Regions from separate parts of the Homo sapiens genome. Here region 1 is linked to region 2. The links come from fine-mapping of genetic effects on gene expression. A gene starts in region 2. The other region holds a variant in brackets. All regions are shown on one strand. Distances are between the middles of the regions. Region 1 holds the start of LCN10 (lipocalin 10). Region 2 holds the start of DIPK1B (divergent protein kinase domain 1B).

The links.
Region 1: its variant is fine-mapped to the expression of DIPK1B in whole blood (TOPMed, PIP above 0.99).

The regions. Positions count from the first base shown.
Region 1 is chr9:136,735,058-136,743,243 of GRCh38, reverse strand. LCN10 (lipocalin 10) reads left to right here and starts at 304. Exons shown (of 6, transcript NM_001001712.3): 1 at 304-457; 2 at 1,224-1,363; 3 at 1,883-1,992; 4 at 2,301-2,408; 5 at 3,196-3,294; 6 at 3,691-5,074. The coding sequence starts at 341. The coding sequence ends at 3,719. RefSeq lists a silencer at 800-899 and an enhancer at 7,484-7,983. The variant G/A (reference allele first, on the strand shown) is at 3,012.
Region 2 is chr9:136,705,442-136,721,300 of GRCh38, reverse strand. DIPK1B (divergent protein kinase domain 1B) reads right to left here and starts at 8,729. Exons shown (of 5, transcript NM_152421.4): 1 at 8,573-8,729; 2 at 3,590-3,724. The coding sequence starts at 8,635. LOC124900276 (cuticle collagen 2-like) reads left to right here. Exons shown (of 5, transcript XM_047424334.1): 5 at 1-4,019. The coding sequence starts at 1,026. The coding sequence ends at 1,961. RefSeq lists enhancers at 1,812-1,861, 6,872-7,001, 7,142-8,066.

The sequences.
Region 1 (8,186 bases), 26 kb before region 2:
GCCTGTCACCTGGGAGGTCTAGGATGAGGGCCAGGGCTTAATGAGTCTCAGGGGCACACACAGTGACCCCAGGCCGGGCACTGAGGGCAGGAGGGTCCTGGGGCCTCAGAGGGGCCTCTGTCTGCCAGGGCAGCCCAGGCCAGCAGTGACCACCAGGTGGGGCAGTGCCGGCTTCCCTGGAGTGTCTGGGGGTGGTCCCTGGGCGGGGAGAGGGTAGCAGAGCCCAAGGCCACACCTGTTGCCTCCCTCCGCTCCCTCCCCTCCCTCCTCTCCCGACACAGGCTGGCGGCTCCAGAGAGGTTTAAACACTGGCCTTGGCGGCTGAGGGAGGAGGGTGAAGATGAGGCAGGGGCTGCTGGTGCTGGCGCTGGTGCTGGTGCTGGTGCTAGTGCTGGCTGCAGGGTCCCAGGTGCAGGAGTGGTACCCCAGGGAGTCCCACGCCCTCAACTGGAACAAGGTGAGCCATGTGCCACTGGTCCCTGAGCCGGGCGCCGGCTCTGGAGCTGGAGCAGGCTCCTGCACAGTCTCCCGGCAGCCGCCCAGGAGCAGGGCTACCAGCAGTTCCAGGCACGGGCGCTGCCCACCTGGCCTCTCCCACTGCAGCCTCCAGCACAGGGGCCCCGCAAGTTGCAGGGCAAAGGCAGGGAGCCTCGAGGGGGTTCGGGGGCCCAGGGGGGTCAGGGAGGGCCAGGGTGGAGGGGCCCAGAGAGCTGTGGCCGAGGAGGTCGGGAGACGCCCAGAGTGCAGAGTGGGTGTGGAGCAAGCGGGGCATATTCTGTAGCGGGAGGGCCCGGGCACCTGCTGAGTGAGCCGTGGGAGCAGCACTCATTGGCACGGCGGTGCCCAGGGCGCTAGGGTTGGCAGCAGGCAGAGTTGGGGGCCGGGGGCCGGCAGGAAGGGAAGTGGCCGAGCAGTACCCAGCCCCCAGGAGGCCATGTGGGAAGGAGCCGGGGCCTCTGAGGTAGGGGGCCTCCCACCTGCTGGCGCCCACAGCCCAGCCCTTTGCTGCCTGGGGTCCCTGACCAGCCGGGCACCTGCTTCTCTGCAGCCCTGCTCCAGTGGCCAGGGCTTGAGTGGCCGGGACCGAGGCGGCACCTGGGCGGAGCTGGGACTCCGGCTCACAGAAGGGTCATTTGTCTCCTGGGTTCTCTAGCTGGGAACCTCGGGGGTGGGGACAGCCCCCGGTGGCAGCTCCTGTCCCCGCCCACACATCCGCTGCGCAGTTTTCAGGGTTCTGGTACATTCTGGCCACTGCCACTGATGCCCAGGGATTCTTGCCGGCCAGGGACAAGAGGAAGCTGGGGGCGTCCGTGGTAAAGGTGAACAAAGTGGGCCAGCTCCGCGTGCTCCTCGCCTTCAGACGGTGAGTGGGCAGCGCCCCCCAGGCAAGGGTCTCCCCTTCCAGGAGGAGGGAGCTGCCTCGGGGCTGGAAAGGAGTCTGGGAGGAGCCTGTCTGTCTGGAAGTTCCACAAGAACCGTCCCCCCACTTCCTCCCCCTAAACTCAGAGGAAGCCACCTGCAGCCCCTGGGACCCCACATGGGTGGGTGTTGGGAGGAAGCTGCCTGCAGACCTTGGGACCCCACATGGGTAGGTGTTGGGAGGAAGCCGCTTGCAGCTCCTGGGCCCCACACGGGTGGGTGTTGGGAGTTTCTCTCGTGCCGTGGGACAGGCCCCAGTCCGAATTGGAAAATCCTCAAACCACAGAGCCTCAGATTGACACGAGTTGGATAGTGAAGCAAAAAACTGGGGACCTGGGGCCCCAACCTTCCCGGGTCCCACGGGAGCAGGGGCGGGACCGAGACGTGTGGGTGGGGCTCGGTGGCTGGCAGGCGGGAGGAGGGGTTCCCTGGTCTGCAGCCTGAGCCCCCGCCTTGGCCCCAGGTTGAAGGGGTGCCAGTCCCAGGAGGTGATCCTGAGGAAAGACGGGAAGAAGCCGGTGTTTGGGAACGCCTGTGCATACGCGGCGGGCCCGAGGGAAGGACAGGAGGGAGGTGTGCTTGGGCTCTGGGCCCTGGAGGAGCTGCGTGATATGCCTCTGACCCCCCTGTGCCTTGAGCAGGCCCCTTGTCCCCGAGAGCACGTGGCAGGCAGGCGTCAGGCTGGCTGTGTTCCCAGAGCCCACACGTCATGTGCTGGGCGGCCTGGCCCGGGAGGGGAGGCCCCGGGAGGGCACTCAGTCCCTCTGGACACCTGCACCTGGGTGGGGGCTCTGAGGCCTCGGGCACCAGGGGTCAGGGCTGTGGGCGGGCACAGCCACGCCATCCGGGAACCAGCGGGCATCTCTGGGCATCTCTTTCAGTGAAAGGGGTGAAGGCCTTCCACGTGCTGTCCACTGACTACAGCTACGGCTTGGTCTACCTCCGCCTGGGGCGTGCAACCCAAAACTACAAGAACCTGCTGCTCTTCCGTGAGCAGGCACAGCGGATGGCAGAGGATGGTGGAGGGGGTGCAGAGGGAGGCATAGAGGGGCGCTGGGCACAGGGGGCCGGGCAGGAGGTGAGGCGGGCAGGGAGAGTGGGGGTTGGGGCGGTGGTCAGGGCAGGGGCAATGGAAGCCGAGACCACAGCAGTCAGGTCCTGGAGGTCGCTGAAGCAAGGATAGGGGACGTCAGGAAGAGGCTGCAGAGAAAGGTGGGCCATCCAGGGGGAGCGGAGGCCACCAGGATGGTGGCGGGTGCAGGTGCAACGTTCTGGGTGAGGGACACAGTGGGGATGAGGAGGCGTGGGAGGGGTCCCAGGTAAGGGTCTGCCCGGGATGGAGGGGTGTGGAAGTGACCCAGTGTGGGTTAAGGGCCACAAACCCAATTCTAGACACCAACCACTTGGGGTACACGGAAAGGAGTGGCCCTCCCGGTTGGAACGGGTAGAGGGGAGGTGGGGTCCTGGGGTCTCAGTCGAGGCAGGGCACGCTCAGGGTGCAGCAAGCTGGGGCACAGCTGAGGGGCTGGCTGGAGGGGACTCTGCAGGCAGAGAGGGTTCCCCAGGTGACAGCGTGGTGACCCTGGCTTCCC[G/A]AGCCTGGCTGCCTCGTAAGTGGGGAGGGGCCCAGCGGCCGCTGTCCTCCCCTGGCCAACCCCTGCTTCACGCCTAAGCTCTGAGGACATTTCAGCAGCTCCTGGGGTAGGGATGGGGGTCAGGGTGCAGACCCTAAAATGGCCAGAGCTGGAGTCTCTGATGTGATCCTGATCTCAACCTCAGATAGGCAGAATGTTTCGAGCTTCCAGAGTCTGAAGGAATTCATGGACGCTTGTGACATTCTGGGGCTCTCCAAGGCCGCCGTCATCCTCCCGAAAGACGGTAAGCTGTGCCCTCAGCCCTTTGCCCTCCTGGCCCTACCTGCCCGTCCCATTGGGGAGCTGATTCATTGGGGGAAGGAGAGATGAAAGGATCCATTTGAAAGGTGCCATTTGAAAGATCCGCCCAAACGTGCCTCCCACCTCCTGCCGCCCCTGAGAATCGGGGCTTGGCCTGGCAGGCCTGGCACCGACAGCGAGAGGCGTCCGGAGCAGATGCTGCATCCGACCAGGCGATGCCGTGGCTGTGGCTGCAGGATCGGGGGCTGCATGGCTGTGTTCTCGTGGTGCCCAAGACGAGCACGCATGGAACCAGGGAGCGGCCGGGGGAGACGTGTTCACGGCTCATGTGTCTCCTCCAAGCAGCCAGCCCACATGTGGCTGTTTTCCTCTCCCACAGCGTCCCGTACACACACCATCCTGCCATGAGAGCCAGCGTCCTCTGCTCTTCCCTTTCGACGCGTGGTCCTCCCAGACCCGAGGAGCGTTGTTCCAGATGTCAAGTGGAGACCACGGCTTGTTGAGAGGTGTTTGGTGACTCTAGGTCATTGACAGTGTGAAAATCAAGTGGCTCAAGGGATCCTTTATGATCACAGAAAGATGGGGGAAGGAGGATACAGGCTGACCGGGTGGCGAGATGTCAGCCAGGCCCCTTCCCCACTGTCTTCTGGAGCACACTGCAGGCTGCTGCTATTCCCTGTCTGCTGTGAAACAGACCACAGGCCGGCCCAACGCAGTCCTCGCCGTGTGCCTTGCCTCTGCCCTCCACGCCGCCGCCACCCTCCGCGTTCCTTTACATCCTGCACTTTCTCAGGAAGCCGTTCGCATATCCACCCAACATGGAGGAGCCCCCATGACGTGCCAGGCAGCGTGCTGGCCCCTGCGGCTGCGTTAGGGAACAGAATCGGCAAACGCAGTCCCAGAGTTGATGCCTGATCAGGAGAAGCCAACTTCAGCAGTGTGGTCACCTGGATACTCGAGTATAGACCCTAGATCACCTGGATACTCGAGTATAGACCCTAGAAGTGTATCTAGGCGCGGCCAGGGCCCCACAACAGCAGGTCTGACTCATTCCATCCAGGGCAGCATCAGGGAGAGCTTCCTGGGGGAAGTGGCATTTGGGCTGACCTGGGAAGGGTGGTGGGTGTTAAGTCAGTTTGGGTGGGGCTGGAGGAGCAGGGGTGCATCCCCAGAACAGGATGTGACTTCTGAAAAGACATCAGAGTAGAGAAAATGGTTTCTCAAGGAGATTGGGGACGCCAGTATCAGAATGGCGGCGGGGAGAGCCACAGAGGAGCAGGAGGGGGCCCACCAGACCACGGCACCTCGAAGGCTGCGGTGAAGGCTTAGGTCTCACTCAAGGGGTGATGACGGGAGGTTGTCTGAGATGAACCCCCCAACTGAATGAATGGACCTTCTTCTGGCCAAGGGGATCCCAAAGAAACCCTGAACCCGAGTCCTCAGCCATGACGGGGTAAGGGGTCAGCCCCTCCTTCTGGCCCGAGAAGAGATCAGAGATTGGTTCTGGGCAGTCCATGGAGAATTTGCTCAGCTGGACCAGTACACGCTTCTCCTTTCATGAATATTCATGACTCCTCCTGAAGCTTATTGAACATCTCTATTTGGCCATCTCCTTCAGCGTAAATTCCTGTCCCCTCTGTCCCTCCCCTCCAAGTGTCTGTTCCAGGCTTCTGGCCTGAGGCTACGCTTCCTAGCCTGTCAGAAGGGCTGCCCTGCTGGCTGCAATCTCTTATGAGAAATAAAGCTCTCCTGTGTGCAAAAAAGTAGTTTGGAGCCCGGGCAACATGTTGAGACTTCATCTCTACAAAAAATACAAAAATTAGCTGAGCGTGGTGGTGGGCGCCTGTAGTCCTAGCTACTCAGGAGGCTAAGGTGGGAGGATTGCTTGAGCCTGGGAGGTTGAGTGAGTCAGGATCGTGCCACTGCACTCCAGCCCGGGCAACAGAGTGAGACTGTCTCAAAAAACATATATATATGCCAGGCATGGTGGCTCACACCTGTAATCCCAGCACTTTGGGAGGCTGAAACGGGCGGATCATGAGGTCAAGCAATCGAGACCATCCTGGCCAATATGGTGAAACCCCGTCTCTGTTAAAAAATACAAAAAATTAGCCAAACGTGGTGGTACACGCCTGTAATCCCAACTATTCAGGAGGCTGAGGCAGAAGAATTGCTTGAACCCAGGAGGCGGAGGTTGCAGTGAGCTGAGATCACACCATTGCACTCCAGCCTGGTGACAGAGCGAGACTCTGTCTCAAAAAAAATTATATATATATATATGAGATATATATATAATATATAATATAATATAATATAATATTATATATATATAGTATATATTATGACATATATATAAAAGGCTGGGCGCCTGTAATCCCAGCACTTTGGGGGGCTGAACCAGGTGAATCACTTGAGTTCAGGGGTTCGAGACCAGCCTGACCAACATAGAGAAAAACTGTCTCTACTAAAAATACAAAGTTAGCCATGCGTGGTGGCACATGCCTATAATCCCAGCTACTCGGGAGGCTGAGGCAGGAGAGTAGCTTGAACCCGGGAGGCGGAGGTTGTGGTGAGCCGAGATCATGCCATTGCACTCCAGCCTGGGCAACGAGAGTGAAATTCCATCTCAAAAAAAAAAAAAAAAAAATACAGCCGGGCATGGTGGCTCACACCTGTAATCCCAGCACTTTGGGAGGCCGAGATGGGTGTATCACGAGGTCAGGATTTCAAGACCAGCCTGGCCAAGATGCTGAAACCCTGTCTCTACTAAAAAAAACAAAAATCAGCCAGGTGCGGTGGCGGGTGCCTGTAATCCCAGCTACTCGGGAGGCTAAGGCAGGAGAATCGCTTGAACCCAGGCAGCAGAGGCTGCAGTGAACCGAGATCGCTCCACTGCACTCCACTGGGCGACAGAGCAAGACTCTAGCTCAAAAAAAAAAAAAAAATACAGGCTGGGTGTGGTGGCTCACGCCTGTAATCCCAGCACTTTGGGAGGCCCAGGCGGGCGGATCACGAGGTCACAAGTTTGAGACCAGCCTGGCCAACATGGTGAAACCCCGTCTCTACTTAAAATACAAAAATTAGCCAGGCATAGTGGCAGGTACCTGTAATCCCAGCTACTCGGGAGGCTGAGGCAGGAGAATCACTTGAACCTGGGAGGTCGAGGTTGCAGTGAGCTGAAATCATGCCACTGCACTCCAGCCTGGGTAACAGAGCAAGGCTCTGTCTCAAAAAAAAAAAAAAAGAAAGAAAGAAAGAAAGAAACTCCAGGATTTAGATGTAGCAGGTGTGGTGCACGCACTCGTGGTGACCGCTCCTCAGGAGGCTGAGGTGGGAGGATGGCTGGAGCCCAGGGGGTCAAGGCTGCTGTGAGCCGATTGCACCACTGCACTCCAGCCTGGGTGAGAGAGGAGACCCTGTCTCAAAAAACATTAAAGAGTGGCAGAGACGTGACTACTTCTTCCAGAATCCCAGGCCAAGGCACAGTCATGGAGAGGTGGGCCCAGGCTCCCCGGCCCCCCTTCGATGTCTCTGCTCCCTCACGCAGGCTGGCTGCAGAGGCAGGACACGAGCTGAGCAGGAGCCCCAAACTGCTGTCCGGCCTTGAGAACCCCGAGTGTGGGCCTCTGAACCACCCATTCACCAGGGTGAGGGCAATGGCTCTGTCCCGGGGGCTCGGGCTCTGCGCCCCCCTTCCCTGGGCCTGGCTCTGTCCCGGGGGCTCGGGCTCTGCGCCCCCCTTCCCTGGGCCCAGGGAAGCAGCCATTTCCACAACTCAATCCTGTCAGTGGGGAGGAGAAGAAGGAAGAAGGGAAGGAGCTGGGAGAATGGGGAGAGGGGAGCACTTGGGGTCCCACGGGCAGGGAGGGAGGGGCAGCAGGAGGGGTTAGACGCGTACACACCACCCGTGCCAGTGCACCTCCCTCCGCAGCGTGCCACCTGGTGGGTCAGAATTGCTGACGGTTCTGTGGGTACCACCCTCCACCCTCCACAGGGCCCGTGCGGTCTATGATGCCCTTTCATCACACACAGCCCTGTGGGTTAGGCCCACTCTGTGGCCCTGGAGTGAGCCTCAGAGACACCATAGCCTCAGCTGCTTCCCAGACAACACCATTTCCCTGACCCCCATTTCAGAGGCAGTGGCATGGCCAGGGTTCTCTCTGGAGGAAGATGAGAACAAGAATCCAGGGGAGGCCGGGCACAGTGGCTCACGCCTGTAATCCCAGCACTTTGGAAGGGAGGCACAGGTAGGTGTATCACCTGAGGTCAGGAGTTTGAGACCAGCCTGGCCAACATGGTGAAACCTCCTCTCTACTAAAAATACAAAAGTTAGCCGGGCGTGGTGGTGCATGCCTGTAATCTCAGCTACTTGGGACGCTGAGGCAGGAGAATCGCTTGAACCCAGGAGGTGGAGGCTATAGTGAGCAGAGATCGTGCCACTGCACTCCAGCCTGGGTGACAGAGAGAGACTCTGTCTCAAAAAAACCAAAAAAAAAATCTGGGGGAGCCCATAGGTGTGTCTGCTACAGATGAACCCCCGGTGAGCCCACAGCCTGTGGACATCCTTGCTGGCTGGCAGCAGAGACAGCTGCGGCCGGGCCGATGGGGCTGGCCAGTGCTCCTGGACACCCCCCACCTCCCGAGGGCCCTGTGCAGTTCTGTCCTGGAGTTACAATGGTCACTTCACTGGGCCTCTGAGGTCCAGGTTGGGGACGAAAGGCAGCAGGGAGTGGCCTGAGGCTCTTGCGAGAGCCCCACAGTTTTGGTCAGAGTCTGCAATTCCCAAAGGTTCTGGCATGGGGCTGGGCACCTGTGTGGCCCCATGGAAGGTGTTTAAAGACCCAGAGTCACCAATTGGGGCTGACGGCTTTTTCA
Region 2 (15,859 bases):
ACCCAGGCAGGGCTTTCCCTGGGACGCCAGGAAGAACAAAAGGGTGGGCTCTTGGTGCCAGAGCGATGGATGGTCAGGCTGGCAGAACCTGGACAGGAGTCAGACACGAGCCATAGGGCCTCTGTCAGAGAAGCAACCCCCTGGACACAGGGCAAACAGCTGGGTGTCATCCCGTGAAGGGCACCGCGTCCAGCCCCTCTGCTCCCCGTCAGGGCGGGCTGCCAGCCATTCTGCACTGGGCACTCATGGGGGCTCTCACGACAGATCCTGATGCCCAGAGCCACACCTGCATGGCAGCTTCTGGCTGGGTTTCCACTAATCTCAGGTGTGGGTCTCCTCCTGTCCCAAGGACTTGGCCTCCCTCTTTGGCCCGGCCCAGCCTTCCCCAGGCTGAGGCAGGAGGACAGGCTGCGGCCTCACTGTTTGCCTCAAGTGCAGCCAGGACAGGGCTCACCACCAGAGCTGACAGTCTCAAGGGTACCCCTGGGGTGGAGCCGGCAACGGAGCCCCAGCCTCTACCTCCTCTCCCAGCCCTCCGAGGCCAGTGCCCAGGCTCAAGCGCTCCGTTGTCAGAGCTGTTTGTCAAGGCTGAGAAAACGGACCCCTGGGGCCCCACAATGACTCCGGGCCTGTCCTTCCCTGTCCCACAGGCCCCCTCCTTAGCCAGACCCCCAGGGAGACTTTGTTAGCAGTAATTACATCAGGCCTGGGGCTGGCTGCCGCCCCTCCTCAGCCCCCACCCTAGCTCCAGGGGCCTGGCAGCCCCTCAATCCCAGCGCCCCACGGGAGGTGATGGAGGGATGGAGCTGGCCCGCCCCTCTGGGGGGGGGAGAATTCCTGGATGTACAGCCTCAGTTGCCATGGAGCCTGGCCAAGCAGGCTTGGAGGGAGCTGGGGAAGGGAGCTGCGGAACACCCCGCCCTCCAGGGTTGGGGAGGAGGGAGGGTCCCCGCCCCCCACACACCAAGGATGGGGACAGAAGTGAGATGGGCCAACTGGAGGCCGAGGACCCCGCCACGTGAGTCATGAAGGCAGCGTCTGTCCCGGCAGCAAGAAAACGCCGGCTCTTCGTCAAGACAGAAAAGGAAAATGAAGGAAAACTGCACACTTGTCCAACCCTCCACCTTGCAGGCAGGCCCTTTGCCACCGGAGTCCACTCCCGTCCCCAGACCAGCCAGCTCCCTGCACCCAGAGCCCCAGACCACACAGCCCCTGCACCCGGAACCCCAGACCAGCCCCCTGCACCCGGAGCCCCAGACCAGCCCCTGCGCCTGGAACCCCAGACCACACAGCCCCCTGAACCCAGAGCCCCAGACCAGCCCCTGCACCCGGAGCCCCAGCCCACACAGCCCCCTGCACCCGGAGCCCCAGACCACACAGCCCCCTGCACTCGGAGCCCCAGATCACACAGCCCCTGCGCCCGGAGCCCCAGACCAGCCCCTGTGCCCGGAGCCCCAGGACCGCAGGAGGCTGCCCTGCTCCTGGCACACAGTGGTGCTGGGGAAGGAGCCTGTGGGCCACACTGCTGTCTGCCAGGCTGGGGCTGGGGCTGGGGCTCCAGGGTCCCCCAGGGGTGGGGAGATGGAGCTGCCTCCATGGTCCTGGGCACCTACCAGCACCTAGCAGAGTGTGGAGAGGCTTCCTCAGAGGCTGAGGCGGGCGTGTGCTTGGCCTCCTCAGGGCCCTTGCCGCACATCGGTCCCCTCACCGCCCAGCCTGTTCCCCGCCTGCAGCAGGGCTCAGTGGGGACTCACGGTCTAGTTCTTGGCCTCGCGAGGGCCCTGGTGGAAGCTGGGACTGGCCCTGCACTGCTGCTGCCTCGTTGTGTGCGCTGGGCCAGCCTCTGCGCCTCTCTGAGGCGTCCAATGCCCCCACGAGGCCGGGCAGGGAACCTCCTCTGGGAAGGAGGGGACGTCTCCATGGCCCCTGGGGTGGCTTCGGGAGAGCTGGGCTTGGCCTGACCTCTGGGAAGGCTCTGAGCAGCCAGGGAAACCCCCACTGGGCAAAGGGCCAGGGCACCCTGGGAAACCGACGCTGCAGCTTCCTCTTGTTTGTGGGGGCACCTCCTCCTGCTTTGCGGCCCGGCACCCAGTAGGTGCTCAGAACCTGCCTGGCCACGTGAATCCTCTGCTCACCCCCACCCGCCCCCACCCACAACATCCCGGCCCGGAGGTCCGGCCCCTCCACCTCCTTGGTCCTTCTAGGAGCTCCAGGGGTGCATCTGATCGGGGCACAGCCTTCCCCACCCATGGCCCCAGGACGAGCCCCATGTGCCACCCTCCGGCCCTGCTGGGCTCAGAGGCCCCCTGGACTTCAAGGGTGAGCAAGGCCTGGTCCAGGGGCCCGGAGGCCTCCCCTGGGCTGGCATGGGCTCCAAACAAGTCCTGGGCACAGAAGCTCTCCTAGCTCCGGACCCCACACCCCAGTCCTCCACTGCCACATCTGGGCCTTTCCACATGTGGCCCCCGTCAGACATGGCTCTGTGGGACACAGGCCTGCCCAGGCCCACCCGGCTAGCTTCATCCACCACCCAGTTGCCAGGAGAGGTGCTCTCCCCATCTGACGGAGGAGACACCGAACCTGGGGTCTCCCTGCACCCAATCACCCTATGACAACCCACAGTGGCCGCTGCTACAGGCCAGATCCTTCTATGCCCAGGCCTGACCCCAAGGGGAGTGGAGGCATCGGAACCCTGGTCATCGGGCAGCCTGGGGTCAAAATTCAGTGGGGGACCTGCCCAGTTCTGGGCGAGTCTAGGGTTTGCCAGGAAGACAGAGCTGGGATGACCTCCCCTCTGAGCTAGTCACAGGGTGTGGAGAGGGGCAGGGGGTCACCTTGGTGTGCACTCATGTGGACACGTTTGCTCCCAGACACACACATGCTCACATACGCCAGGGGACTTAGCCCTATCTCCCTGAGGTGGAGGCTGTGGAGGACCTTGCCCTGCCACCTGCCTCAGGGGACCCCTGGTCCCAGGGGGGCTAGCGAGGCCACTAAGGCCAGCACACGGGGGTCTCTATCCCGGACCAGTGAGGCCAGCACACGGGGGTCTCTATCCCGGACCAGTGAGGCCAGCACACAGTGGTCTCTATCCTGGACCAGTGAGGCCAGCACACGGTGGTCTCTATCCCAGGCCAGTGAGGCCAGCACACGGGGGTCGCTATCCTGGACCAGTGAGGCCAGCACACGGGGGTCTCTATCCCATCCAGTGAGGACACCACACGGGGGTCTCTATCCCGGAGCAGTGAGGCCAGCTGCCCACCCCAGGCTTCCTGCTAAACATCCTCCCTCCCAAAGATTTCTGGAGTCTGCCCTGCCTTCTGCCCCCAGCCCCCACGTCTCCCCCATCCTCCTCTGGACCCCCATCCTCCACACCCAGCCTGAGGCAGCCCCGCACGTCTCCCCCGTCCTCCCCTGGACCCCTGTCCTCCACACCCAGCCTGAGGCAGCTTTGCAGATTCCACCTAGAAACCCACGTGCCTCGTGGGCCCTGGGTCTGGGGAGGAAGGTGTCTCCAGGGCCTGGTGCCCCAGCATCTTGGGCAGCAGGGGGCACGGCCCAGTCCCCAGCCCGCACAAGCAACACTTACAATGACCACCTGGCAGACATGGCCGCGACAGCGCTCCGAGTAGGACGAGTAGTGCACGTACACCAGCCAGCTGCCTGCAAAGACGCCCAGCCAGGCCAGGAAGATGCAGCGGACCCTGAGGCCTGGGAGCCGGCCCTGTGGGGGAAGGGGCTGCGTGAGGAGGTGCCCTCGGGGCACCCAGGCTCAGGGTGCTCTCAACCCCACTTCCCACAGGAAGGGCCTCCGGATCCACCCCAGCCTTCCCCTGCCATCCCCTTGGCCCCCTGGCACCCCCGTCTTCTAGAATCACCCCCAGCTCAGCGACACCCACTCCTGGCTCTGCCTCTCCAGGGTCACATACCAGGGGCTGCAGGGGCCGGAGGTGGGGGCAGGCGCTGCCCAGACTTTTCAGTGTTATGGGCAGGTACAAATAAATGTCAAAACCAGGGGACTACAGGGTGGCCGATTCTTTCCTCTGCTGAATGAAATTTTTTTTTTTTTTTTGAGAGGGAGTCTTACTCTGTAGCCCAGGCTGGAGTGCAGTGGCGCGATCTCGGCTCACTGCAACCTCTGCCTCCCGGGTTCAAGTGATTCTCCTGCGTCAGCCTCCCGAGTAACTGGGACTACAGGCATGCACCACCACGACCAGCTAATTTTTGTATTTTTAGTAGAGACGGGGTTTCACCATGTTGACTAGGCTGGTCTTGAACTCCGGACCTCAGGTGATCTACCTGCCTTGGCCTCCCAAAGTGCTGGGATTACAGGTGTGAGCCACTGTGCCTGGCCGAATGAAGATATTTTTACAAACCCTTCCTATCCTGATCTCATTTCATAACATCGTCACCTCCGCACAAGGCCAGGTGAGCGCGCCCACCGCGAGAGACACTGCCCCTATTTTTCCCACCGTCCACCGTAATGCAGATTGGTGGGAAGTTCCGGCCGGACCAGACCCACAAGGAGAACCAGGTTTGGAGAACGGGGCCCTAGGAGCCCAACGCAGCCACATCCTGGAAGCCTTTAAGAGACGCAGGCGGGCCGGGCATGGTGGCTCACCCTGTAAACCCAGCACTCGGGGAGGCTGAGGCGGGCAGATTGCTTGAGCCCAGGAGTTTGAGACCATCCTGGGCAACATAGGGAAACCCCGCCTCTACAAAAATACAAAAATTAGCTGGGTGCGGTGGCTCACCCTGTGATCCCAGCTCTTTGGGAGGCTGAGGTGGGTGGCTTGCTTGAGCTCAGGAGTTCGAGACCAGCCTGGGCAACATGGCAAAACCCCATCTCTACTAAAAATACAAAAATTAGCTGGACATGGTGACTCACGCCTGTAGTCCCAGCTACTTGGGAGGCTGAGGCTGGAGGATTGATTGAACCCGGGAGGTTGAAGCTGCAGTGAGCTGTGACCCCACGCTACACTCCAGCCTGGGTGAGAAAGCGAGACCCTGTCTCAAAAAAAAAAAAAAAAAAAAAAGACACAGACTCAGACACCGATGTTCACAACAGCCCAGGGGTGGGCAGTCCTTAAGTTCACAGCCGGGGGATGGAAGAGCAGCTGCGTCTATCCTATCCACACTGCGGAGTGACTGTGTCCTGAGAAGGAAGGAGATCTGATGTCCACCCAGAAGGGAGGAGCCCCAGGACAAGAGGCTCAGTGAAACGAGCCCGTCACCAAAGCACAAATCCTGCAGGACCCACTTACACGAGGTCCCCAGAGTCGCCAAAACCATAGAGACAGGAAGGAGAGTAGAGGGAGCCGCGGGCTGGGAAGGGACTGGGAGTGTGCGTTTGATGCAGACAGAGCTTCAGTTTGGGAAGGCGGAGAGCTCTGCGGACAGAGGGAGGTGACCACTAAACTGTGCCCTTAAACAGGGTTAAGATGATACACTTTATGCCATGTGTATCTTACCGCAGTTAAAAATTAAGGTCGGGCGTGGTGGCTCACCCCTGTAATCCCAGAACTTTGGGAGGCCGAGGCAGGCAGATCACCTGAGGTCGGGAGTTGGAGACCAGCCTGACCAACAGGGAGGAACGCCATCCCTACTAAAAATACAAAATTAGCCAGGCATGGTGGCGCATGCCTGTAATCCCAGCTACTTGGGAGACTGAGGCAGGAGAATCGCTTGAACCCGGGAGGCAGAGGTTGTGGTGAGCTGAGATGGCGCCATTGCACTCCAGCCTGGGCGACAGAGTGAGGCTCCGTCTCAAAAAAAAAAAAAAAGTAAGCAGGCAGCCCCTGGCCCCTGCCTAAAGCTCTGACCCAGATGTCTGGGAGCCGGCTTTTAGGGAGGGCTCCAGGTCACTCTGCCATCCTCAGTCCCTCTGCCTTGGTTTCCCTACCGGCCTGAGGAGGCTCAGGCACCGGCTCTAGGGTGCAGGCCTCCAAGCTGGGCTTCCAAGGGTGACAGCCAGGGACAGCTGCATGCCACCTTCCCTCTCCCCAGCCCCCTAGCAAATTTCAGGCCTCTCAGGCACTGGCCAGCAGAGGGGACTTGCCCTACACAGGGGTTCAGACATCCCTGACCTGCAGCTGAAGGGTGAAGGGCCCAGGCTTGGGGGCCAGCTTCCCCTCAGAGAGGCCCCACTGCTGGCTCCAAGCACTCCCTGTGGCCTCCTGTCCACCTGCGGCCAGGGAGAGGCTGCCCTGGGCACATCCTCCTCCCGGCAGCGCCTGGCCACACCCCCACCTGCCCAAGCCAGAGCCCCCATCAGAGGTCGTGGGCTGCAGCCCGGCTTAGGCCGTGAGCAGGGGACTCCTCCCTAAAATGGGGCCACCAGCTCCTCAACGAGGACAAGGCACAGCCCAGGCAGCTGAGGTCGTTTTTTCTGGTTCTTTCAGGATGGGTGGGCCCTGGTCTCCTGCTTCCCCGGCATCCACTCACGGATGGCCGCCCCAGGCAGGGCTACAGAGGGAGGACCCCCAGCAGCTGGGGAAGGGCCCAGACCTCCAGTAGCAGTGGGGTCCTGGGGGTCCTGGAGCAGAGGGCGTGGCTCCGGTGTGGGGAGCCCTCCAGGCCCAGGTTGGTCTCCGCCCCCTCAGACCACTTGTCCTGGGCACTGAATCTGTTTCCGGCAGACTTGCTCAAGATGAAAAACAGGAAAGCAGAGAAACAATGGGGGGTGGGTGTTGTTCTGGCAGGATAAGGTCGGATGGCTCCGTCTGGGGTGAACGTGCCCAAGGCAGGGCCATGCAGGGAGGCCCAGCATGGGCGGGGCCTCGGAGGACAGCCAGGAGGAGGGAGGCTGCAGCTGGCCTCGGGCCTAGGGCTGACCCCAGCTGGGGACAGTGACACCAAGCTAGGGACTTACCCAGTTCTGCTCCCCAGAGCCCCGACTGGGCTTGGGCCAGGGCCTATTTCCGCCTGGCCAGCTCTGGTTCATCCCCCAGCTCTTTCGTTGTTGTTGTTCTTTTGAGACAGGGTCTTGCTGTGTTGCCCAGGCTGGAGTGCAGTGGTCCAGTCACAGCTCACTGCAGCCTCGAACTCCCAGCTTCAAGTGACCCTCCCATTAAGGCCTGGCATTACAGGCAGGAGCCACCTTGCCCAGCTCTCCCCTAGGTCTTGATCTTCCCCAGCTGCCATCCCTGACCCTGCTGTGGATCCTGGGGTCCCAAGCAGCTGCTCTGCAAGGCCCCCACAGTGCTCCCTGGCCCACCCTGGCTCCCGGGCCTGGCACAGATGGACGGGCAAAGCTTGAGTGTGGAGGTGGCCCCACCATCCAGGACCTGGGCTGGGGCTTTGCAGGGGCAGGTGGGGACCAGCTCCCGGTGTAGCCACTTGGAGGATAGGGAAGGTCACCCAGGGGATGGGAACAGCACAGTGGTCCTCAGCCCAGCAGGCTCAGACCGTGGGCCAGGAGCCCCACAGCACTAACCCAGAAAAGCAGTTCACAAGGCCAGGAAACTGAGGCCCTCGCCACTAGAGGGGCAGGCTGGGCTCCCACCAGGGCTCTGGCCCCGAGCCAGCCACCCTGGGAGCAGCCAACACCCCTCTGCTGCCATTCCTGGGCGGAGCTCCAAGCATCAGCATCTCTTCTGCAGCTGCTGGTCGAGGCCTTTCCTCGGGGGAGGGGACCACTGTGCACCCCACCTCCCAGCGACTGGGGTGGTCCTCAGACCCCTTAGCTCTCACCCTGCCCCAAGGCTGAGCCGGGACCACCACAACCTGAAGCCCCAAGTGGGCACAGAGGGTCTCGCTGCAATCTGTGGGTTGCCAGGTTCCATACGCTCTTCCCAGAAGGGGAGCTGAGGCCAGCCAGGCCCTGAGCTCAGGCAGGACGCAGGCAGGGTTCCTCCTGCTGACCCAGGACCACCCTGCGGGGGCCGGGGAGATACAGGCAAATCTGACCAGGACTGGCGCCTCCGGCAGATGGCTGGGGTCCTGGAGGGTCTGGGAGGGCATCCCATCCGAGGCCGGGCCCCGGATGATTGGAGCCTGATGGGCCTGGCCTGCATCTCCCCAAAGCAGAAGGTGAAAGGGCTCCTGGCAGCTGGAACCCAAGGCGGCCCGGGCCTCCCCTGCGGACCCGGCCAGGCCCCTGGAGGGGACGGTGGTTCAAGGTCATCCCGGGGTCAGGGCAGGGTCCCCGCGCTACGGCTGGCTGATGGGATGAAGGGGCAGGGGGCGGGGAGGTCATGTCCTTGCCAGGGCGTTTCTGTGCGTCCCAAGTTTTCTACCGCAGAATAACACACCTCATTTTTTAAGTGGAGAAAAGAAGAAAGGACTTCGGTGTGGTTTCTGGGCCTGGGGGGCAGGGACCGCCTGCAGGTCGGGGCGAGGGCCTCCAGGCCGCAGCATCCCCGCGCCCGGACCCTCCTGTCGCCGCCACCGCCCCTCCCCCAGCGTCCCGTCCTTCCGGAGCCACTCGCCCCCTCCCCGCTGCCCACCCCGGGCTCATGAACCCTTCGTGTCCGAACCCGGGGCCCCGCTCCGTACTCGGCCCACTCCGGGGCTGGAGCTCGGCCTCCCCAGGCAGAGGCGGCCGGGGGCGGCGGGCGCGCACCGCGCTTACCTGCAGGCGCTTGGAGAAGGGGCAGAAGAGCACCAGGTGCGCCAGGCGCCGCAGCCGCCGCATGGTGGGCTCCGGCCGGGGCTGCGCGGGCCCCGCGGCTCGCTCGGCCTCAGCCCCGGCCCGGCCCGGCCCGCAGCGGCCGCCGCTCCCTCGCCATGCGGGCCGCGCGCCCCCGGGCCCGCGTTAAAGGCGAGGGCGCGCGCCTTTCTGTCGGCCGACGGCGGCGCGGCGGGGGCGCGCGGGGGAGGGTCGCGGCGGAGGCGCGCGGGGGCGGGGCTTGGCGCGCGGCCCGCCTTCGACCCCCGGCTCGGCTGAGGAGGGGGCGGGCACCGAGGCCCCGCCCACCCGCAGACCCCGCCCCTCATGCAACGGTGCTGCGGGAGGGGCTGGGGGCGCGCGGGATGGGCCGGGAGGCGGAGCCGGGGCCGGGGGCGCGCCTGTCGGGCTCCTGGGCGTCTCGGGGGCTCTTCCCACGCTGGAGAGAGGCCCCGTGCGCTACGCAGGCTGCGGGGTTCAGGGCTCCCCACGCGCGCCCCCGGTTCGAGGCCGCAGAGCCAGGGCTGGTCCTTCCCCTGGGTCCTCAGGATGGGGTCAGACGCGCGGAGCCCTGGGCTGGCCGAGCCTGCAGCCCGCCCCGGGGTCCGACCCTTCCCTCCTGGCTGAGACCCCGCGCCTTGGCCACTCGCCGGGAGGACACTTCCTTCGCCTCCGCGTGGGGTGCTCGGGGATGAGCCGTTGCCGCCTCCATAGGCAGGTTCCGTGTGAACAGAAGCTTTCATTGCACTTCGGTAAACACCTGGGGGGGCTGAGTTGGACGGTGAGGGATGTGGGGCGCAGCCAGCAGCTGCCAAGACTCGCTCCCTCCCCGCGGCCGCCGGCGCTTCCAGCTGCTCCGCATCCCGGGCGGCTCTTGCTATCGGCAGGTTTTTACATTTTAGCCATTTCCCTGGTGGTGGCGTCTCGCTGGGGCTGTGGTTCGCGTGTTTAACACACTTTCTGCGTGTTCAGTTACCACCTGTGTATCTTCTCCAAAGTCTATTCAAGTTTTTGACCATTAATAAAAATCACGTTGTTTCTTTATTATTAAGTTTTGAGACTTATTTACATTTTGGTTTTAATTTTTAATATCTAGAATGAGACTGGGTCTCAGTGTTTTGCCCAGGCTGGTCTCGAACTCCTGGGCTCAAGGGATCATCCTGCCTTGGCCTCCCAAAGTGCTGGGATTACAGGCATGAGTCACCTGGTGCCCAGCCAAGACTTTTTTTTTTTTTTTTTTTTGAGAGGGAGTCTTGCTATGTTGCCCAGGCCGGAGTGGTCTCAAACTCCTGGCCTCAAGTGATCCACCTGCCTCAGCCTCCTAAAGTGCTGGGATTACAGGCGTGAGTCACCATGCCTGGTCCGAGACTTCTTTATATCTTCTGGATATCTGCCCATTATTACACATGTGATTTGCAAAGATTTTTCTCCCAGTCTGTGGCTTTCTTTTCATTCTCTTAACAGTTTCTTTCTTTTCTTTTCCTTTTTTTTTTTTTTTTTTTTGACGGAGTTTCACTCTTGTAGCCCAGGCTGGAGTTCAGTGGCGCGATCTCAGCTCACTGCAACCTCCGCCACCCAGGTTCAAGAGATTCTCCTGCCTCAGCCTCCCAAGTAGCTGGAACTATAGGTGCAAGCCACCATGCCCGGCTAATTTTTGTATTTTTAGTAGAGACGGGGTTTCACTATGTTGGCCAGGATCACTCCTGACCTCATGATCCGCCTGGCTTGGCCTCCCAAAGTGCTGGCATTACAGGCATGAGCCACCGTGCCTGGCCACACCAGGCTAATTTTTTAATGTTTTGTAGAGATGGGGTTTTGCCATGTTGCCCAGGCTGGTCTTGAACTTTTGGGCTCAAGCGATCCTCCCACCTTGGCTTCCCAAAGCTCTGGGATTCTGGGCGTGAGTGAGCCACTGCCACCAGCCCGGATCGTGCTCTGAGTGTGTCATCTCTAAGAAATTTTTGCCTAACCGAAGGTCACAAAGGTTTTCTGTGCTTTCTTCTAGAAGTTGTATAGTATTCGGCTTCATATTTAAGTCAATGACCCAATTCCAGTTAACTTTTGTGTATTGTGCAGGGTGTGGATCAGAGGGTTTTCAGTTTGGGGCTTGGGGGTTTTGTTAGCATTTTTTGCACATGGACATCCAATCCTTCTGGCATCATCTGTTGAAAGGATGAGCCCCTCCCCACAGAATTGCATGGCAGGGAGTTAAACAGAGAGGGACAAGGCCAGGGGGCAATGGGGTCAGGGTTCTATGCCAGGTATAGAAAGGAGGGGTGGGCCTGGGGGTGTGGCAGTGGCCTAGGCCAGCGACCTGGATGGACAGGGCTGGAGGCAACGTGAGGAAGGGGAGAGGGGCCAGTGGGAGAAAGTAGCAGGCAGACCCTCCCAGTCTCAGTGACCCCCAAGGTAGCCGTAGCCCAGGCTGGGAAGAGGGACTGCCATGTCCCCAAGTGACCTTTCCTCTCTCCCTCGATCCAAGCACTGTCTCTCTGCCAGCGAGGGTCCCGGAGCCCAAGAAAGGGAAGAGCAGTACGAGAGGGTGGGACACAGAGCACAAGCACCAAGAGGCCAACACGTAGGCTTCTCCCGGCCTGGAGGGAGGCCTTGCCATGTTTACAGCTGGGAGAGCATGTGCTTCCCTGCATGGCCTGTCCTCCTCCTGCAGGAGGGCTGTCCCAGGGCCAGGGGGAGTGGGTGCAGGGCAGTGGTGGTCGGTCCGGCCTGCAGGGAGCTCAGCTGGAGGGTGCAGGAGCCCACACCTTCCGTCAATGTGAGCCAGGCCAAGACCGCGGCCAAGAAAGTTCTGGAGGGTCTCCCGAGGAGGGCTTCCTGGGGGAGGGGCGCAGGAGAGCGTGATCCGTGGGTCAGGATCTGGGGAAGGTGTGGGCCATGAGAAGGATGAGCGCAGCCTCAGTGCCACTCCCAGGCTGCCAGGAGGGAGATGGCCCGCCCTGGGAGGAGTGCCTGGTGAGCGCATAGCCGGCCCTGGGTGACCCTGTCCCCGAGATCTTCCAAAAAGGCATTTCCCAGCAGGGCCCGCGGGACGCGGTGCTCCCTCCAGGCAGGGACCAGTGACCACGTTCTCCTTTGCATCTGCAGGCCTGGCCCAGAACCTGCACACTGTCCGTGGCCACTAGCCCATCAAGTGTTCATGGAATGGGCACTGGCCGGGTTCCAGTTCAGTTTGAATGGGTCTAGTTCTCGTTTTGGGGCCCTTGTTTCTACGCCACCAATGGGTGACATCCACCTGCCTGGAACATGAATGGGGCAGAGGACCCGGGAGGTGCTGACTGGTATCTCAGGTGTGGGGGCGGGAACTGGGCCGTGCCTTGCTGTTTCTAGGGCCTTTCGTGGCCTGAGGCCCTGAGCTCAAACCCTGGCCAGGGCAAACGACAGGTAAACGAAAGGTCCACTGCACAGACACAGACGCAGAGACACAGGATCACACACACCTTCGGGGCAGGCTCCGGGGACAATTCTGAAAGTGGAGGACCTTCCTGCCCTGTCTTTCCTTCCCATTCGTCCTGAGGCCTGGGAGTTTCCTCCCCAAGCAGGGGGCCCATTGCTCTCCCTGCCCTGCTGCAAAACTGGCATGTCCCATTCCAACTGCTATAACTGCGTCTCTTCCCCAGGCATCCCCTACTCACACCCAGACCTTTTTTTTGAGATAGAGTCTCGCTCCGTTGCCCAGGTTGGAGTGCAGTGGGGCAATCTCAGCTCACTGCAAGCTCCGCCTCCTGGGTTCACGCCTTTCTCCTGCCTCAGCCTCCCGAGTAGCTGGGACTACAGGCGCCTGCCACGGCGCCCAGCTAATTTTTTGTATTTTTAGTAGAGACGGAGTTTCACTGTGTTAGCCAGGATGGTCTCGATCTCCTGACCTCGTGATCCGCCCGCTTCGGCCTCCCAAAGTGCTGGGATTACAGGCGTGAGCCACCACGCCTGGCCTTTTTTTGTATTTTTAGTAGAGACGTGCTGAGACCAGCTCAGTCAGGGAGACCCTATCCGAGCGGCGTTAGAGGAATTAAAGACACACACAGAGAAATATAGAGGTGTGAAATAGGAAATCGGGTCTCACAGCCTTCAGAGCTGAGAGCCTCGAACAGAGATTTACCCACGTATTTATTGACAGCAAGCCGGTGAGCACACCAGGTGAGCAGCCGTTTAGGGGGCCCTGGTGGATCGAGGGCCCTGGAGAGCCACGAGCTTTCCCTCAGACGGTGGAGTGCGGCGCGTCAAGTTTCCCCCAAAGGGAGAGCTGCCACTTCCGATGAGAAGCTGACATATCACCGGGGACCCGCCCGCTGCTGTTGAATACAGAGTCTTCTGTTTGCAAAGAGAAGCTCTAGGGCCCTCCTTCCTTGTGGTGGTTGTGTCTGAGTTGAAAACCCTCCGAATGGGACTGTCAGGCTCCAGTCACAAGGCCTCCGTGGTCAGGTGGTTCACTGGGACAAGAGCTCGTTGTAAGCTAATTTTGCTTTTTGAAAACAAGGGGTGAACCTAGTAGTCGTGTCAGAGAGTCAGTGAATCCACCACCCCAAGGGGCACATCTGGGCAGAGGCTGTTTTCTTTCTCTGGAGTTTCCAGATAACGGGATCGTCAGCCACAGGGACTTGTCGTTCAAAGGGATCACAGGGCTGTGAGGCCCCAGCGGGAGAGAGAGTGGCCTGTGGCTCACGGGGCGGCAGCTGGAATAGCCTGTTGGTTCAGGCCCTGACGTAAGCAGGCTGATTTGTGGGTTCACTAATTTATTTTATTTATATTATTATTTTTTTGATACCAAGTCTTACTCTGTTGCCCAGGCTGGAATGTAGTGGTGTGATCTCGGCTCACTGCAACCTCCACCTCCCAGGTGCAAGCGATTCTCCTGCCTCGGCCTCCCGAGTAGCTGGGATTACGGGCACACACCACCACGTCTGGCTAATTTTTATATTTTTAGTAGAGACAGGGTTTTGCTATGTTGGCCAGGCTGGTCTCAAATTCCTGACCTCAGGTGGTCCACCCCCCTCGGCCTCCCAAAGTTCTGGGATTACCGGCGTGAGCCACCTCGCCCGACCTGGATTCACTAATTTAAGAAGCCAAGTCGAATGCCCAAATGAAGCACATCCTGTCTCCAACACCCACACAGTCCAATCAAGTGCTGGGTTGTCCTTTTGGGTGAGATGAGGGAGCAAAGAGACAACAGGTTTTCCTTGACTGGCTGAGGCAGTGAGTGCTGTGGACCCACCTCCACCTACCTCATCCCAAGAAACTCCACCTGGTGAGGCAGCCACTGGACGCTGTTGATGTTTTGCCTGCCTCTGTGGACAGGGAGGTATGAGAGTACCCCCGTCTAGTTGTCTAGTTCTAGAGACCCAAGGCTTCTGAGCTGCCAACCTGCAGGACATCATCTGTATCATGGCACCTGTGGACATCAGAAGTCCTAACCTGCCCACAGGTGGCCAGTGGCGGGGCGTGTACGGGGAACACACCTAAGTGTATTGGAGACCTGGCCATGTGAATGCAAGCTGGTCTTGCTCCTCCCCTGCCAGTGGTGTGGCAAAAAGGCATTGGCAGGATCCAAGACAGTGTACCAAGTACCCGGAGCCCACGTGATGGGCTCGGTATGGTCACAGTGTGTAGGACAGCTAGGGCTCTGGGAGCAATGGCTGACTTCTGTTGGTGGTAATCCACTGTCAGCCACCAGCAGCTCTTACCTGCTCCACTGGCCACTCAGGGATGTTGTGTTGCCATATTTCATCTCTTTTTTTTTTTTTTGACACGGAGTGTCACCCAGTGATTGTCACCCAGGCTGGAGTGCAGTGGCGTGATCTCGGCTCACTGCAGCCTCTGCCTCCTGGGTTCACATGATTCTCCTGCCTCAGCCTCGCGAGTAGCTGGAACTATAGGGGCCCGCCACTATGCCCAGCTAATTTTTGTAGTTTTAGTAGAGACTGGGTTTCTCCATGTTGGCCAGGCTGGTCTTGAACTCCTGACCTCAGATGATTCACCCGCCTCGGCTTCCCAAAGTGCTGGGATTAGAAGCTTGAGCCACCACGACCAGCCTTTATTTTTTTGAGGCAGACTCTCACCCTGTTGTCCAGGCTGGAGTGCAGTGGCACGATCTCGGCTCACTGCAACCTCCACCTCCCGGGTTCAAGTGATGGGTTCAAGGGATTCTTATGCCTCAGCCTCCCGAATAGCTGGGACTATAGGTGCCCGCCACCACACCTGGCTAATTTTTTTGTATTTTTAGTAGAGACGGGGTTTCACCATGTTGACCAGGCTGGTCTCTAACTCCTGGTGTCAAGTGATCTACCGGCCTCAGTCTCTCAAAGTGCTGGGATTACAGGCGTGAGCCACCACGCCCAGCCCCATATTTCATCTCTTAGTCCCCCTACTGCCCTTAATCCCTCAATCAAACCTCTGATGCGCCTTTTTCCCTCTGGGATTCTGTACCGCTTCTGGGATTCTGTACCCGCCCTGAAAGCGGGTTGCAGAGAGATTCACACATCCCACTGGCCCTTCTCTGCATTCAGTGCTTGCCAATAGGGAGAGTCCCCTCTGGCACGTACAGGATGGAAGTATGGGGATGAAACACAGCTCCTACGCGGCAACACACACATAGAAGCATCAAAAACAGGGCATCGAATTGGCCCAAAATGCCACACCCACAAGATCACATCAGCCTTCACTCCCCATTTCAAACCGTGCACAAATCCGGTGAGCGGAATCCAGAGAACTTTTCCTTCCACTGGTCCAAACAGGAGAGTGATGTGGGCTACTCATATCCGACAGAGCCATAAAGTTTGAGTTCTTCTTCTCCTCCAAGTTCTCCAGCACACTTGGATGGTGCCCACGGCCTGGGAACCTCTAATCATCTTTCTTCCTAACGTAAGTGGAGGGGGGTGAGAGGTGGAAGGAGGAAGTCCATGAACAAGGTTCTGCGTTTATTTTCAGGCAGCGTGGCAACGGCTCATGACTCAGCCAGGGACTGTTCCATGATTTTCAATCCATCCAATGCTCCGTACCAGGCAGTGAGCTTCTCACAGCTGACCCATCTACTTCAGTTTTGGGAGCCCCATGGCTTAGTAGCCATTGCCATGTTGTTTTCAGCTGGATCTGTGGAGTTTGCACCATTTGGCCAACTCGAGCTTGGTGTCCCAGTGGCAATCTTATTTGAGGATTCTTCCTACTTTAGACAAAATAGATGTAACAGAGTTGATTTGAGCATTAAAGGAGGCATGAATCAGGCAGCACTCAAAGGTGGAA